Homo sapiens: one gene and its partner. The protein of the gene in region 1 purifies or fractionates together with the protein of each later gene. This does not show direct contact. Each region holds a gene or a part of one and is shown in the gene's direction. Other genes may lie near its edges. The genes, in order: PFN3 and POTEJ.

Region 1 (2,512 bases):
ATGCCAGCCCAGCTAATGTTTACTGAGCCTAGGATACTGTATACCAAGCCCTGTGCAAGGAGAAGCTGCATGTTATTCCTTATGAGAAACTAACATTTTGTTTACAGAGCAGTAGTTCTCAGACCATACATTAAGATCACTTGGGGAGCGTTTTGAGCCAATCTATGCCCAAGTTCCACCTCAGACCAATTAAATCAGTATGTCTAGGGATGGGGCATGGGTAGTGGTATATTTGTAAAACTCCCCAGATAATTCCATGTACAGCCAAGGTTGAGAATCGTGGTTAGAAATACTTAGCATTGGCCGGGCGCGGTGGCTCACGCCTGTAATCCTAGCACTTTAAGAGGCCAAGGCAGGTGGATTGCTCAGGAGTTCGAAACCAGCCTGGGCAACACGATGAAACCCCGTCTCTACTAAAATACAAGAAATTAGCCGGGCACGGCGGCGTGCGCCTGTAGTCCCAGCTACTCAGGAGGCTGAGGCAGGAGAATCACTTGAACCGGCAGGAAGGAAGGAAGGAAGGAACAGAGGGAGGGAAAGAGAGAGACAGAAAGAAAAGAAAAAAGAAAATAGAAAAAAAGAGCATTGACTGTGGCGTGGACCCTAAGGGCTGGGTGACATATCGTTGTCCCCACCCCAACACGCACTAGTGTAGTGGGTCTGAGAGTCCCTTGGCTAGCAGTACCATCACCAGGGAACTTGTTACACATAACAAATTCTCGGGCTACACTTTATACTGCTGAACAGAAAGTCTGGGGTGGGGCCCAGCAATCTGTTTAACAGCCTTGCGGGGGATTCTGATGTTCTCTCATGCTTAAGAACCACAATCTGGGGGTTGAATGGTTGGTTCCCTTACAAGTGAAGGTCTGGCTGTCCAGACACAACATCCTTTTTTCACAAAACCAGCTTTTTAAAATTAAAAATAGATTGGCCAGATGCGGTGGTTCACGCCTGTAATCTCGTCACTTTGAGAGGCTGAGGCGGGAGGATTGTTTGAGCTCAAGACTTCCTGACCCGCCTGGGCAACATAGTGAGACCTCATCTCAAAAAAATTTTTTTTAATTAAAATTTGTTTTTGCTTTTTTAGAGACGGGGCCTCGCTCTGTGGCTCAGGCTGGCGTGCAGCGACACGATCCTATAATAGTTTACTATAATCTCGCTACTGAGTTCAAGCGATCCGCCCGCCTCGGCCTCCCAAAGCGCTGGGATTACAGGAGTGAGCCGCTGCGCTCTGCCAAACCCATCCTACAGGATAACCTTAGAACTGCGACAGCACTAAACGCCCACGCCCCACGTGCCCCAGCCTGGGTGGTCGCTCCGGGACGGCGCCTTGTGTGACGTCACAGCCCCGCCCAGCCTGCCTCACAGCGCCGCAGGCCTTCCCCGCGTGGCGCCTCTATATTTCCCCGAGAGGTGCGAGGCGGCTGGGCGCACTCGGAGCGCGATGGGCGACTGGAAGGTCTACATCAGTGCAGTGCTGCGGGACCAGCGCATCGACGACGTGGCCATCGTGGGCCATGCGGACAACAGCTGCGTGTGGGCTTCGCGGCCCGGGGGCCTGCTGGCGGCCATCTCGCCGCAGGAGGTGGGCGTGCTCACGGGGCCGGACAGGCACACCTTCCTGCAGGCGGGCCTGAGCGTGGGGGGCCGCCGCTGCTGCGTCATCCGCGACCACCTGCTGGCCGAGGGTGACGGCGTGCTGGACGCACGCACCAAGGGGCTGGACGCGCGCGCCGTGTGCGTGGGCCGTGCGCCGCGCGCGCTCCTGGTGCTAATGGGCCGACGCGGCGTACATGGGGGCATCCTCAACAAGACGGTGCACGAACTCATACGCGGGCTGCGCATGCAGGGCGCCTAGCCGGCCAGCCAGGCCGCCCACTGGTAGCGCGGGCCAAATAAACTGTGACCTGGGCGCGGCTGGCTCCTCCTCCACTTGCGCGGTGGGGGGAGTTGTAAATAAGGAAACTGGTCTTTGCAAGACGGTTACCTGGTGGAGCCGGGATTTTGAGTCTAGAGGCTGCCAGGCCCCTGTGCCCTACACCCTGCTCTCCCATGGACGCCTTGCAGAGGCTCCTGGCCTGACTGCTGCTCCTTGGCGCGTTCCCAGGGTCCTAGGGACTCCGCAGCTGAGGAAGAGTCCAAGGGTGGGGGCTTCTCAAAGTCTGTTTCAGCCTTAGCGTCCTTTCTCAGAGATATTCCCACACATTAGGCAGGACAAGTAAAGGGAGCCCCCTCCCCATCCCGCGAACACCTCTCCCCATCAGGGTGTCAGGCTGGAGGCCAATTTGCTCCTCCCCCCTCCACTCATACCTCAAGCACTAGCAAGTTGTGAGTGGGTGACAGGATGGGCTTGGTGGCTTGTAAAGCAGTTCTGGGGCTCACAGGCCTCTGCATCTCTGCCCACATTCCTCCAAGGGGAGCCTACTGAGAGGGCTCATGTCCAAGACCATCGCAATTGGGTTTGAGACCTTACATCCTGCCTTCCCCAGGCCTTCGAAAAGGCCCCGCAGGA
Region 2 (3,831 bases), on another chromosome or scaffold:
TCAAAAAAAAAAGAAAAAAAAAAAAAAAAGGAATGAAATACTGTTTTCTATCCACAAAGTTTGTGAGGATGAAGAACAGTGGTACTTATGTAGTTGTTTAAAGTTTAAGTTGCTGCAGCTTTTCAAACAGACACTTTAGTGGTAAGAACTACATTTTAAAAATGTGTATGCTTTTTACTTATCAATTCCATTATACTGAAATATCTTTACGAAATAGATGTGTTTTTCTTAGTATTGCTTAAAATAGCAGTGTATTTAGAAGAACCCATATAAAGATTTTATGAACAAATTTCAGTGCATCCATAGGATGGAATAATATGTAACTATTGAGGGTGTCAGTAGATACAGAGATATGTCGACGTGCAAAGATGTACTTTGCTATATCAAGTGAGAAAAAAATCAGTTTGTTACACATATACACGAACAGAATCTGCTCGTGTTAGCTGAAAATCTGTAGAAAATATGATCAAACTTGTTTCTGGGGATTTGTAAGTGAAGTTTTTCCCTTTCTCTTATCTGTGATTTCTGCAATGAACATCTGAAGTTGTAGTTAAGGTTCATTACTAATGCAATAATCCTTGGGAAGAGAAGGAATATGCTTCTTGCATAGATGCAAATAATTCCTCACATTCTATTATTTATTTTTATTTCTGTGGTTGGCTATTTTCTGTGAACTTTTACCCTCTTCAGAAGAAGAGGGGTCGTGTTTACCTGTTCCTGTAGATTTTATTATATATACATTTTATTCCATAATTATCTTTTCATTATATATAGATTAACATGTAAAAAGTATGAATTAATCATTTTAGTTGAGTTATATATTTATGAAAATTAAAATAGCAAATATAAATGATTATTGCTATTGCAAATGTATTGCGCTACTCTATAGGAGTTTTCTTTAAAAATATTGAACTCCCAAGCTGTGTTCATCCATTTTTCCTATCCATTTAGTCATCAGACATAAGCCAGACACCTATTATGTGGCAGGCATATTCTACTATCTCTCAGGATCCTTCCGTCTTTGAAAACTACATGTTTTCCTGCTGGGCTTGAGCAAGCTGAGAGATTTAAAATTGGGGCATTAGGACTTAATCTCAATTGAAGCTTTTCCTCCCTCCTTTCAAACAAAAGCATTTCTGGAGGTAGAAAATAGTAATAGATAACCTTTAACTGCCCTTTTGAAAATTTATGTCTTGGGGAAAAGACTGTTTTAGTTGTTTTAAGAACTAAAATGTGGTACATAAACAGCATGGAATAATATGCAGCCATAAAAGAAGGAACGAGAGCATGTCCTTTGCAGGGACATGGATGGTGTTGAAAGCCATTATCCTTAGCAAACTAACATAGGAAGAGAAAACCAAATACAGCACGTTCTCAATTACAGGTGGGAGCTAAATGGTGAGAACACACAGATACCTAGAGGGAAGGAACACACACTGGGGCCTATCAGAGGGTGGAGGGTGGGAAGAGGGAAAGAAGCAGGAAATAGAACGAACGGGTACTGGGCTTAACACCTGGGTAATGAAATAATCTGTACAACCAACCCCCTTGGTGCACATTTACCTATGTAACAAACCTGCACATCCGGCACATGTATCCCTGAATGTAAAAGTTGAAAAAAGCTCCACAAATAGTTTCATAAATCCATTTTAAAACAACAAAATTTATAACAGTCTTAAATCCTAATATGAATGATTGGAAATATCTGATGTACATACATTGTATAAATCTAAGTGTTGACAAAAATGAGCCCATGCTATTCATTTGAATTCCAAGTTTTCTTTGACTTAAAGTTTATTGAAAACCAAAGTAAGAATTGGTTTATTTTAGAAATTTGTTTTTGTTTTCACCTCTGCTCTCTTATTCCATAGTTCTTTTAGGAACTAAAATTTATCTAAATGCTGGTCATCTGACTGGAACCGCCCCAGACCTGTTGTAACATATTCTACTTAATGTAAGACACCAGGGATTGTATGATGCCCCATTATTTTATGCCTCAATAAGAGAATTATTTAAATGCCGCAAATTATAGTAAATCATGAATTGTAAGTGGTATTTCAGTGGACACAACATGGAGACAATGATCATCTCAGAATCACTAAAATACAATGTTAGCTGTAATATTTAAAACACACCTGAAAGTGCAGGTATAATTGTATCATCTCAATTCAAATGTTGTCTTTAGTGGTATTAGTAAAAATTAAAATATCTAACAATTATTGAGCTGTTATTTGTGTTAGGAACTATTCTATATCTTTTGTGCAGAGTCTCATTTAAGCATTACAGTGGTTTCCCGTAAGAAAGCTACTATTTTCATTCCTATTTTATTGATGAGGAAACTGAGACCCCAAAAGGCTAAGCAACAGCCAGGAAGTGACAGAGCTTCAAGTAGGATTCCAGCTCAAGTTGAATGTCATCCAAGGGCTATGCTCTTTGTATTCATATAGGATGCTCTTTCATTAATACAGCGAGTAAAGAGAGATAATAAATAGTGTGCTTTTTTCATGGGAAAGTTAAATGTTTGTTTTGAAGGCAGAGTAATAGCAGGCTATTCAGTGTTTGCAATTACATGAATCATTGCTATGGCTGTAGCTAGTGCACTACAATTTCCTAAAAAGTCTTGTCACTCTCATAGGACTGCTCTACATCTGGCCTCTGCCAATGGGAATTCAGGAGTAGTAAAACTCCTGCTGGACAGACGATGTCAACTTAATGTCCTTGACAACAAAAAGAGGACAGCTCTGACAAAGGTATGCAGTAGCCAACTATATCAGCATGAGGTGGGTTTGATTTCAATACATAGCATAAAAATGAGTTTTCTCCTTTAAATATAACTTAGGTGGTGAAAGCTGTGGAATGTTATTTTGAATTCCTAGGATTTGTAATTTGTTTTTGGTCTAATACTGACAGGCCGTACAATGCCAGGAAGATGAATGTGCGTTAATGTTGCTGGAACATGGCACTGATCCAAACATTCCAGATGAGTATGGAAATACCACTCTACACTACGCTATCTACAATGAAGATAAATTAATGGCCAAAGCACTGCTCTTATACGGTGCTGATATCGAATCAAAAAACAAGGTATAGATCTACCAATTTTATCTTCAAATACTGAAATGCATTCATTTTAACATTGACCTGTGTAAGGGCCAGTCTTCCATATTTGGAAGCTCAAGCATAACCTGAATGAAAATATTTTGAAATGACCTAATTATCTAAGACTTCATTTTAAATATTGTTACTTTCAAAGAAGCATTAGAGGGTACAGTTTTTTTTTTAATGCGCTTGTGGTAAATAATTTTTTTGAAAGCACTGAATTTGTAGAAGGTAATACTTACTATTTTTCAATTTTTCCCTCCTAGGATTTTTTTCCCCTAATGAATGTAAAATGGCAAAATTTGCCCTGAAATAGGTTTTACATGAAAACTCCAAGAAAACTTAAATATGTTTCAATGAATAGAGATCCTGCCCCTTTGGCAAGTTCCTAAGAAACAGTAATAGATACGAAGGTGATGCGCCTGTCAGTGGCAAGGCTTAAGATATTTCTGATTGCTCATGAGGCAGAAGTGGAAAGCGGAAAAGAGAGCAATCAGAAATATCAAGGCCAATTTGGAAATTAGGTAATAGAGGGAAAAGACCATGAAGAGGTTGTGTGTGTGTGTGTGTTGTCGTTGTTGATTGATTTGTTCCCTTTGTATGGTGAGACAAGGTTCTCTTCAATTTTAGAGAATGACAGTTTTCAGTTTGGGAGAGGGAGTTAGTGGGTTGTAAACTGAATAGAGATCAATTTTAGGAGGCCTCTGAGGAACCAGATTGGCAGTGAATAGG

The links.
Region 2: the proteins of PFN3 (region 1) and POTEJ purify together in Homo sapiens (affinity purification with mass spectrometry; one large-scale study listed by BioGRID and IntAct). This does not show direct contact.

The regions. Positions count from the first base shown.
Region 1 is NC_000005.10:177,399,509-177,402,020, reverse strand, and holds PFN3 (profilin-3), read left to right. Parts: upstream 1-1,359; 5' UTR 1,360-1,444; coding exon 1,445-1,858; 3' UTR 1,859-1,912; downstream 1,913-2,512. UniProt on the Homo sapiens protein: Binds to actin and affects the structure of the cytoskeleton. Slightly reduces actin polymerization.
Region 2 is NC_000002.12:130,614,155-130,617,985, forward strand, and holds part of POTEJ (POTE ankyrin domain family member J), read left to right. Parts: intron 1-2,635; coding exon 2,636-2,750; coding exon of another isoform or gene 2,751-2,780; intron 2,781-2,910; coding exon 2,911-3,084; intron 3,085-3,831.